Regions from separate parts of the Homo sapiens genome. Here regions 1, 3 and 4 are each linked to region 2. The links come from fine-mapping of genetic effects on gene expression. A gene starts in region 2. Each other region holds a variant in brackets. All regions are shown on one strand. Distances are from middle to middle.

The links.
Region 1: its variant is fine-mapped to the expression of SLC36A1 in whole blood (INTERVAL, PIP above 0.99).
Region 3: its variant is fine-mapped to the expression of SLC36A1 in whole blood (TOPMed, PIP above 0.99). The same link has a PIP of 0.9 or more in Th17 cells and non-classical monocytes.
Region 4: its variant is fine-mapped to the expression of SLC36A1 in cerebellum (GTEx, PIP above 0.99). The same link has a PIP of 0.9 or more in left ventricle and skeletal muscle.

The regions. Positions count from the first base shown.
Region 1 is chr5:151,355,401-151,358,086 of GRCh38, reverse strand. The region is part of intron 5 of LOC105378234 (a long non-coding RNA gene); the gene reads left to right. It also overlaps a transcript of SLC36A1 not described here. Among named protein-coding and RNA genes, the nearest start is that of SLC36A2, 9.2 kb to the right of the region's middle. The variant C/T (reference allele first, on the strand shown) is at 1,043.
Region 2 is chr5:151,446,481-151,449,166 of GRCh38, reverse strand. SLC36A1 (solute carrier family 36 member 1) reads right to left here and starts at 1,564. Exons shown (of 11, transcript NM_078483.4): 1 at 1,354-1,564. RefSeq lists an enhancer at 1,535-1,584.
Region 3 is chr5:151,472,322-151,475,007 of GRCh38, reverse strand. SLC36A1 (solute carrier family 36 member 1) reads right to left here. Exons shown (of 11, transcript NM_078483.4): 8 at 1,237-1,335. Among named protein-coding and RNA genes, the nearest start is that of SLC36A1, 26 kb to the right of the region's middle. The variant CAAAGCAAAAG/G (reference allele first, on the strand shown) is at 1,366.
Region 4 is chr5:151,480,011-151,482,696 of GRCh38, reverse strand. All of the region lies in intron 10 of SLC36A1 (solute carrier family 36 member 1), which reads right to left. Among named protein-coding and RNA genes, the nearest start is that of SLC36A1, 34 kb to the right of the region's middle. The variant C/T (reference allele first, on the strand shown) is at 1,222.

The sequences.
Region 1 (2,686 bases), 91 kb after region 2:
AACTGAGCAGACCGTGGTCAAATAGGGCAAATGCTGAGCCTTAACCAATCAAGTTCTCTCTGTCCTTCACTTCCATTTTATGTCCATAAAAGTTCTCTGACCACAATGCAGCCTGGAGCTCTCTGAACCTATTCTGGTCTTGGGGTTGCCTAATTCATGAATCATTCTTTGCTCAATTAAACACTGTTAAATCTTATCTGTCTATAGGTTTTCTTTTAACAGATGCCACAAGATTTAGGTTTTAATCGTGGAGAATACCAGCAGATTTCTGGAAGTAAAAGAGCAAGAAGGCACAGAGTTCATGCTCAGAAAATATATGTTGACTTAAGTCAGAGGTTGGCAAGCTTTTTCTATACAGAGCCAGATGGTAAATATTTTAACCTTCGTGGTCTGTATGGTTTCTGTCACAACTACTCAACTCTGCCAATGTAGCATGAAGGCAGATTTAAACAATACGTAAATGAATGGGCATCCTGAGTTCCAATAAAACCTTTTTTCTAAAAACAGGTGTCAGGATAGATTTGGCCAATAGGCCATAGTTTACTAACCCCTGCTTTAGGTTATTTCAAAAGAAGAGATAAATCAGATAAGATTAGTATTAATACTTGGCCCAAAAGGCCTATCATTCAGCTTGTAAGGAAGTAAAAGTCCACAAAATCTCCTACTCTCCAAAAACAGCAATGGAAGCTCCATCTCTCCCTTGACAGAAGAACCACCCAAACTGGCTAGTGCTCCTTTTAGTGCCAAGAACAATGATGGGTTTTGTCATGCTGATACTGGCAGCCAACCACCTTTCTCTCACTACCTACCACCTATTATCACACAACCACCGCTAAAGCCCTTAGCTATGTGGGCCTGTGGCTTAAGTGAGGTTCCGGCTGTGATCCAGGGAAAGGCCTTTTGTGGCTTTGTGAATGGGGGTCAGAAATCTAGGAAATGAAGATTTTCCAGTTGTCTACCACTACACATGGGCATCACTAAACCGATGAACTTCGAGTTCCTTATCTGTAACATGGGGACTATAATTCCTACCCTTCTTCCT[C/T]TTAGATTTGCTAACATCAAGGAGATTCTGGATGGGTCAAGTGCTTGGGGACCTGCATAGTCCTCTACCTATGGGAGCACCCTGCTTGTGTGAATATTATCATCAGCTACCTGGCTTCATTCCCTTGACCCTATCTAGCTTCCTATTTTTTTCTTCCTTATTGATCCACAATAAGGAATTGCACAGGAAATCATGAGCAGGTTGAAGGGAAATGTTAGGTCTGAAGTTAAATTTGAGAGAGAAAATTGCCCCCAGTTGTGTAGCATGTTCTTCACTGAATTTATGGCAGAGAACTATGGCCTAGAAGAGGGGCTGACCACAACTGAATGCCCAGAGGTAAACTTTAATGTGGAGGGATTTTTTGAACTGCTTCCTTGTCTTTGAGTAAGTGGATGAGAGGGGGGTACTTGAAACTGGACTTCAATGTTGAATTTCCTCTTGCAAAAATTCAGGAGGAGAGCCAGTGCCTGAAGGGCATTTCAGGGAGAAGATTCAGCCACCAGAGACCTACTATATGCCCAACACACGTAGTTCCTAAGGATGAAAGGGAACACAAAGATGACAGCCCCTCTCCTCCTAGAGTTTGCTGGCTCCAGCTCGGAGGAGGTGTGAGTAACAGATATACGCCTCATCTCTCTCTCGTAGCACTTTTCTTCTAGCACTTTATCAGGTCTTCGTGTATTCTTTTTTTTTTTTTTTTTTTTTGTGAGACAGAGCCTTGCTCTGTTGCCTAGGCTGGAGTGCAGTGGCGTGATCTCAGCTCACTGCAACCCTACCTCCCAGGTTCAAGCGATTCTCCTGCCTCAGCCTCCCAGTTAGCTGGGATTACAGGTGTGAGCCACCATGCCCAGCCAGTTTTTGTATTTTTAGTGGAGATGGGGTTTCTCCATGTTGACCAGACTGGGCTTGAACACCTGACCTCAGGTGATCCACCCACCTCAGCCTCCCAAAGTTCTGGGATCCTCCTGTATTCTTAACATATCCTTTGTAAAATTTTAATTTTGTTACAAAATAGCACATTAATATTAATTTTTAAATATGCCTTTAAAATCAAAAACATTGGAATTAAAATACAAAATTCCCACATCTGCTTCACCCCTAAGTGTCCACTTATATTCTCACACTGCAGGAGGAACTACTGTGAATCCTTCCAGATCTTTCTCAAGCATATACAACCATGTGTATACAAGATGTGTATGCATGTGTATTTTCTATGTTTGGGTTCTTGCAGTTGGAGATGTATGCGGTTTTATGCTTTTCTCAAAAATAAATTGATTCCATTTGTTTTTTGAAAAATGGGTTCATGTTGTACTTAGTGTGATGAACATTTCATATTTCACAGTAATATATCCTAAATCTCCCTCCACGTCAGTATATACAGATATGCTTGAGTCTTTTTAACAGCCATGGCAATATTCCACTCAATAGAATTAGGATAATTTATGAACAATTATCCTCCTGTGGTACATGCAGGTTGTCTCCATTTTTTGCTATTACAGATAATGCTGCAGTAAACACCCTGGGGTATACGTGTGTGAGCATTTCTAGAAGAGATTATTAGAAATTAAATTGCAGAGTTAAAAGGAATGCACTTTTTCAAATTTTTATAGATATTACCAAATTCACTTCCAGTAGTATGTCGTA
Region 2 (2,686 bases):
GAATAAGCAGAGGAAACTGCTTCCTACACAATTAGATTAAGTCTTGTTGCAAGGCTGATACTCAGTGTACACAGCGGGTAAAATCTCTCGGAATAAAAAAACAAACAGACCCTGGTCAGGGGCACTGGCTCACACCCCTGTAATCGCAATACTTTGGGAGGCCAAGGTGGGAGGATCACTTGAGCCCAGGAGTTTGAGATCAGCCTGGGCAGCATAGTGAGACCTCATCTCTATTTAAAAACAAACAAACAAAAAAACAAGCCTAGAAAGATGCACAACATCCAGATCACAGCAGAAGGGGCCCTTAAGAATTCAATTCCATCACTGTCTAGACTGAGAAACCCAAACGCGAGTCACTTAAGGTTGCCAGGTAAGCGGCAGAGCTAGGACAAAATATCCTGATTCCCCAATCTCTGTTCTGTCCATTGCACCATGATGCTATCTTCAGCAAAATTCAAATAACTGCAAAACGTCCATCCAAATAAGCAATCCCAAATCTGACAAGTTACAGAAAAAATAAAGCAAAGGTCTTTACATTCTTCAAGTTAACGTCAGGGCTCTCCACAACCTCGGCTCAGCCACCTATCTTCCCAGAAGCACATTCCGATTCATATTTCATATTTTGGTGTGACTTACATAGAATGCAGGAAGGTTAGAAACCAAACCTACAGAAGGATGAGTTTGCAGAAAAATAATGAACAAACAGGGAACCACACCCAGAGCAAATCCAACCCCAGCGGTGGAAAATGCAGACAGCTAAAAAGGGAGAGGACTAAAAGAGAAAGGGACAGAAAGGAGTGCCTTTTCACAGGTGAAGTTTCCCGCAGGAGGCGGTGTGGCGAAAAGCAAACAGCTGCTGAAGCTTAGGAACATTTGCATTCTAGTCGCAGGTCTCCGGGTCTCCGATTAACTCACTGGATGACCTTAGGCAAGCCCTTACCCCTTCCCGGAGTAAGGGCTCAGTTTCTCCAACTGTCCTAGGAGGGAGCTGCACCAGACGACTTCCCAGCGTCCTTGCAGTTCTGACCCAAAGACCCATTATGAGCCTGTCTCAAGCAGCGCTCCCGCAGCGGGCAAGACATTTGCTGGAAACGGGGAGACCTGTGCGAAGCGTGAAAGACGCCCTAGATGGTCCTTTGGGTTATCTTCACCATCTACCCCAGTTTCCCCCACCTGTCAGTCAAACAGGACGGTGAGATCCCAACCCCACGAGGTCAAGGGAGATAGCGCGAGGGACAAGGGATCTCCACGCTTCGCCCAATTCACAGAGGGGTGTCAGCGTCGTACCGCAGCTGCGGCCCGGGGACGCCAAGGAGTCGCGGACCCACAGCCCGGGCGGATCCAGTGCCTGACCTGGAGCATCTGCCACGCCGGGAGGAAGGCGAGGTGGGTCCTGCCCAAGGCGGCGAGCGCCGCCAGCCGGCAGCCAGTGGAGGAACTCACTGCTCGGGTTCTGGCCCCAGCTCCGGCTCCGGCTCTGGCTTCAGCACAGCCCACCCTTCCCGGGTTCAGTATCAGCCCCTCGCCATCCTCCTTTGCTGCCCGGCAGCCGCTTCCGGACCTCATCACGTGATCCCACCGCCCACGCCAGAGGCCGAGGTCACGTGCTCCCTTGAGCGGCCGCGCCTTTTTTCTCACTGAGCTCCGGAGCTCTGCTCCACAGCACCACCTGGCGACCTATTACTGCCACTGCTGGAAGGACTATGTTCCTGGGCGCTGGGGACTGCGAATAGGAACTGAACAGGGCATTGATCTTGGGCATGGGGCAGAGTCCAGTCGAAGAGCACTGTCCCTTGAGTTGTGGGTTTGTGAAATATTGCTAATTTTTACACTGGCTGTATTTTCTTTTACACATCTCGATGAGTTTGTATTGCTTTTATAATAAGAAATATGCATATTTTTAAAACTTCCAATTTTTCAGAAGCATACACAAACTATCATCTGTGGTTGCTACTGGAAATGGAACTGTGGGGTAGGGCAACATTATCTTTTAATACATTCAAATTTTTAAAGTAACATTTTTAAATGGATGGCAACATTTCAGTATTGTATTATCTAGGCTTCTCCTTTTACCTCCTTGTTACAGACTTTTCCTTTAACAATTATGTAACAAATAGGCTTCAAGTCAAAAACTGTCACAAGAGACAGAGAAGATCATTGTTTAATAATAAAGGGGTCAATTCATCAAGAAGACACAACTGTAAATATATATGCATGCAAAATTGGAGCACCTAAATACATACAACTAATATTAATGGCCATGAAGGGAGAAATAGATAGCAACACAATAGTAGGAGGGTCAATATCCCACTTTCAACAATGGATAGAGCAACTAGAGAGAAAATAAGGAAATAATGAACTTGAATTGCACTTTAAACCAAATGAACCTAACAGATATATACAGAACTTTCCATTCAACAGAAACAGAATACACATTTTTTCTCTAACACACTTGAAACATTCTCTAGAATAGACCATATGCTAGTCCAAAAAACAAGCCTTAAATTTAAGAAGATTGAAATCATATTAATATTCTTTCAGACCATAATAATATGAAGCTAGAAATCAATGACAGGAGGAATCTTGGAAAATTCACAAATATGTGGAAATTAAACAACACGCTTTTTTTTTTCTTTGAGACAAAGTTGCGCTCTTATTGCCCCATCTGGAGTGCAGTGGTGCAATC
Region 3 (2,686 bases), 26 kb before region 2:
CCCCATGATGTCAGAGCTTCAACGTGTTCCATCAACACCACCTGGGTGATTTCTCACGATTTTGACAAAAAATGTGTACAGCTTCTAGGTTTTCTTAAAAGCAAATAAGGTGTCTCGGAAATCAAAAAAGAGAAAGAAGTGCCGTGCCGGGAGGAGGCTCTTCCCATTTGTGGCGCCCTTGGCCAGGAATAACTTTCTTCAGAGAAGAGTTTTGTACCATTATTATGAAAAATACAAATAAAATTCAAATTAGGTAAAAGTGAGGGGTAGATTCCTTTTTAGGAAAAGCATTTGGTGAAATCACAGAATGCTGAGCCAGGAGTGAAGGCTGCTCTTTTGCACGCAGAAAATACACCAAACCAATGTTGTAGGGCAGAGAAATTATTCATGCATTTATTGATTCAATAATAAAATAACATTATTAATAAAATAAAAATCTATTAAACATTTACCATGTGTCAGGGTCTGTGCAAAGCATTTTGCACATATCTCATTTAATCCTAATAACTACGAATCATTAAGCTCACTTTTCAGGAACAAATAATGAAGGCTCAAAGAGATGAAGCCCTTGCTCAAGGTCACACAGCTACTCTATGGCAGAGCCAGGACTTACCCCCATGTCAGTCTGACTCTAGACCCTGCCTTCCTGATTGCCATATGCTATTCCTTACTGCACACATAGGAGATGAGTGTGCAGTGAAGGGGCCTTGAATGTAAACATTTTAAAATTACATATAATTTGTCTTGAAAAGTTGAAGCTGGGAAATCTCAATGGAATCCCCGAAACACTATTCACTAACTGACCAGTGAGTTACAGAAGATAATTTCTTTTTTTTTTTTTTTTTTTTGAGACAGAGTCTCGCTCTGTCACCCAGGCTGGAGTGCAGTGGCGTGATCTTGGCTCACTGCAACCTCCGTCTCCCCAGTTCAAGCAATTCTCCTGCCTCAGCCTCTCGAGTGGCTGGGATTATAGGCGTGTGCCACCATGCCTAGCTGATTTTTGTATATTTAGTAGAGATGGGGTTTCACCATGTTGGCCAGGCTGGTTTCGAACTCCTGACCTCAAGTGATCCACCAGTCTAGGCCTCCCAAAGTGCTGAGATTACAGGCGTGAGCCACCATGCCTGGCCTCAGAAGATACTTTCTAACAATGTTTCCTCAGCATTCCTTGAAACAGACCTGGAGAACACCAAGGGCACCAGAGAACACTAGCCCAAATCACAGTGCAGCTCTTACCATTCCAATGCCTTCAAATGAAAAAATCGCTGTGCCAAAGAAGAGAGGGTAGGTCTTCCAAGGGGCCACCAAGGGGAGGTGGCTGGGGTCTGGGATCCTCTGAAAGACAGAAAGCAAAACAAAGCAAAA[CAAAGCAAAAG/G]GCTATACAGAAATTCAAGATTTGAACTCTGAATCGGAGAGGTCATACCTTTTAACAAATCCAAGATTCTCTAAAGGAAGAAAGTCTAATACCTGACAGATGATTTAGGGACATTTAACCTTTGTATGTTTTTCTCTTCAGGCTAAGAAAAACCCACTTGTTTGGGGGAAAGACAAGCCCAAGGTACTATTAAAAACTCAAATGTTGGGGCTTGCATAAAAAGAGTCACATTCTTTCACTAGGTAATCCCATCCCCAGAAACTGAATTCAAGTAGAAAAAAAATCAAAAGATGAAAAACACTGAGCAAAGCTGTTTAATAAAGTAACTGAAAACAATATAAGTGCTTCCAAACAAGGGATCAGTTAAGTAATTAACAACATACCAGCTAAACCACAGAATATATATTCTATCTATCTATCTATCTATCTATCTATCTATCTATCTATCTATCTATCTAGAGACAGAGTCTCCTTCTGTCACCCAGGCTGGCGTGCAGTGGCGAGATCTCGGCTCACTGCAACCTCCCTCTGCCTCCTGGGTTCAAGCAATTCTTCGTGCCTCAGCCTCCTGAGTGGCTAGGACTACAGGTGCGTGCCACCACACTCGGCTATTTTTTGTATATTTTTGGTAGAGACAGGGCTTCACCATGTTGGCCAAGCTGTTTGTGAACTCTTGATTTCAAGTGATCTGCCTGCCTCGGCCTCCCAAGGTGCTGGGATCACAGGCGTTGGCCACTGCGCCTGGCCAGTATGCACTATTAAAAAGTAAAAATTGAGATAACTAAGTAGAACATGAAAAACTACTTACGAAATATTAGTGAGAAAAAATTTTAATTTTAATTTATATATTCACTCTGATACAACTACATAAACATCAAAGATAAAGCTGGAAGGGAAGAGAAAGTGGTACATTTTTATATTGGTTCTCTTCCTTTTTCCTCTTCTTTTCTTCTCCTTTTTAAAATTCTCATCAATGAACTTGAGCACTTTCAAAGTATTACCAAGAAGCACACAACAGGAGTGCTGGAACATGTGGGGAGGAGGAGCAAAAAGAATGCTTTAAAAAATGGGCCAGAAAAAGGGCAACTGTTAACTGCAGGTACAATGTTAAGGTTGTATAAGGAAGGAGGTTGTGATGGTTAATACTGAGTGTCAACTTGATTGCACTGAAGGAGGCAAAGTATTGTTCCTGCGTGTGTTTGTGAGGGTGTTGCCACATTTGAGTCAGTGGACTGGGAAAGGCAGACCCACCCTTAATCTGGATGGGCACAATCTAATCAGCTGCCAGCTCGGCCAGTGGCCAGATTAAAA
Region 4 (2,686 bases), 34 kb before region 2:
TATGATCCACCAATACAGTGGAATACCACGAGGTCATGAAAATATTAGTGAAAGATATGAATATTTGTGATATAAAACTAAATAAAATGTGAAAGACAAAATTATGTGTAAACTACAATTGCAACTATTTTTACAAGGCACCCATGAGGATTAAGACACAGAAGATACAATGCAAAAAAAAATTACTTTGTTAAATTGGTGGAATACTGGAATTTCTTCTTTTATTCCCAAATGTTTTTACATTGACTTTCTTTTTTTAGAGTAATATTTGTGTAGAAACTTAAAATCAAGCGCAAAGCACCTATACAGAATCACAGAATTTTGGAGTTGAGAGAAACCTTAGAGGTCAGACACCCTTCCTATCTTACAGTTGAGGACCCTGAGGCCTTATGAGGGTTCCTGGGCGGGGAATGCAGGGTGGGGGGTGGCAGGGTTACACAGCTAATTAATGATGCTGCTCTTCTTCACTGTAGCTGCAAGACTAAAAAGTGTGAAAGGCCCAAAGGTACTAAGAAGCTACTCTGTTTGGACCTGGAAGCTTCATCCTCTAAAAATCCGACTGCTTGGAATGTTTTGCAGCTCTGCATTCCAGTCTGAACAGGCTTCTTGGATGATGCGATTTTAGGTAATTATATCTTCAGAAATAGGTTTCTGAAATTTTCATAGCAAACTGAAGTAAAATGTTTCACATGGCAAATGACACAGAGAATCAGTATGAATCACTGAAGGATGGATGGGTTATTGCTCCAAAGAAATCTAAAAAACCGTTGATCCTACAACTCCAGACTCCACAGGTGGGGCCAGCCTCTTCCACACAAGGTCTGGACATAAGGTGACCTGCTAAGTCCGCATTTCCAAAAATATGGGCTGGAAGTAGATACTGTCCGATATGAAATCATAACAAAATGAGCACTATCCTATGAAATACTTGTTTTCCCTCCCCCTCTTCTCCAACTGTTTGAAATTAAGCATCACAAAGTCCGTATCAGCCATAGTAATCTTTGGAGGATGGGGGAGAGTGGTGAGAAAGTTGAATTCCAAGAGGGAAAAAAAAAAAGAAACTACACTGAATTCCTCCTGTTCCCTTTGGAGGGTGAAGAGGAGGAGGAAAAGTTGGGGAAAAGATAGGAAAACACCAGAAATAGTAATAAAAGAAGCTGCTGTTAAAATTTATGAATATAAATGAAAAAAATCAATTAAAGATCTAAAATCACATACTAA[C/T]CAACGGTGCTGAAAGATCTGAAAGAACAGAGAAGCAAGAACAAAATGAACGCGCATAAATACATTTAAGTTGCTGCTGCCATGAAAGGCCTCTACTGAGTCCCACAATTACTTCAAAGTCTCCAAGGAAGGTGAGAGAGGCGAGTGCTCTCAGACATAAAGGGGGCTGCCTTTTTGAACAGGATGACAATGCAATGCTAAGTCACAACAGATCACAGAAGGGAAAAACAACTGCACACACTTGAAGACCAAAAGCAGCCGTGTCTTCTGAGCATCGTCCTGTTGAAGGGAGATGAGACTCACAGACAGGGCCAGGAAAAGTGAAGCAAAATCCAAGAGGCATCTAAGGATAACATGAGGTCTGTGAATCAGAGACTGCTGTCTCCTGCAGGGTGCTGCAGAAATAAACCTGGCAGGAAGTGTGACATATGCTACAGGGAGGCTGAGCCAGGCTGGAGGGGAAAATTGGGCAGGGAGAGGAGTCAGGCTCCTGTCACTGCCCCAGCTCAATAGGCAGGGTGGAGGAGCTGTTTAGTCAGGAAGGCACATTTTACCTACAGAGACCTACTTTTTCCGGAGGGAGCACTTTGGATAAAAGCAAATTATTTGAACTAACCACACTCTTTCTTCCAGTGCCCTTTAGATTTAAGAATTGGGCCCTCAGAGTTTACATTATAAATACCATACACGTGAAAGCTGTCTCCTCAAGCACTTAGAGCTACTCCATCCACGGTGGAAACATACACTTTGGAATCAAAGCATGGAGAGTTACTGGCACAAGATAGGATTAAAATTTACAGTCCAAGCATCCCATCTTAGCAGCACACATTAAGGCAATCTATTAGAAAAGCAGGATACATCATGTTCCTTCTTTTTCAGTCGCTGTGGGAACAGCAGCTGGCTTTCAACAGCCCTGGCCCCTGGATTAGCTGCTGCGTGGGCTGTTTCTATATAGGCTGGTCTAGGAGAGGGCCTGAAGGAGTGACTAAGAGCAAATGCTAGACAACTTTCCCATCTTTCATCCTTAAAACATTCAACCCTAATTAGAATTTAAAAAGTCATATGGATCTATCTTTATCCCAAAGACAGAGGCTCAGACTGAATAATTTAAGAAAATTCTCAGGGAAGTCTCAACATAATAAGCAAAGAGGTTCTTGTTCAAAAATAATAAAACCTAAAAAGAGAAAAAAAAGCCAAATAGAGCCAAAAAGAGGAATCTATGCTTTTAAGCATTTGAATTTGGAAAACAATTGCAAATCTCTTAGAAACTTAAATTAGCTATTATCAACCGATTTGCTCAGGGGTTCTCTAGTCTACCAACTCACAGAAGCTACAAAAAAAATTTACTTTTATTTTCTAAATGTCACCAGTTTTCAACCACAGCAAACAGAAGGGTATCCTGTCTTTTAACTTACACTCCTGGGAATGGGGTTGAGAGAAGAAGAATAAAACACAAGTGATCAAT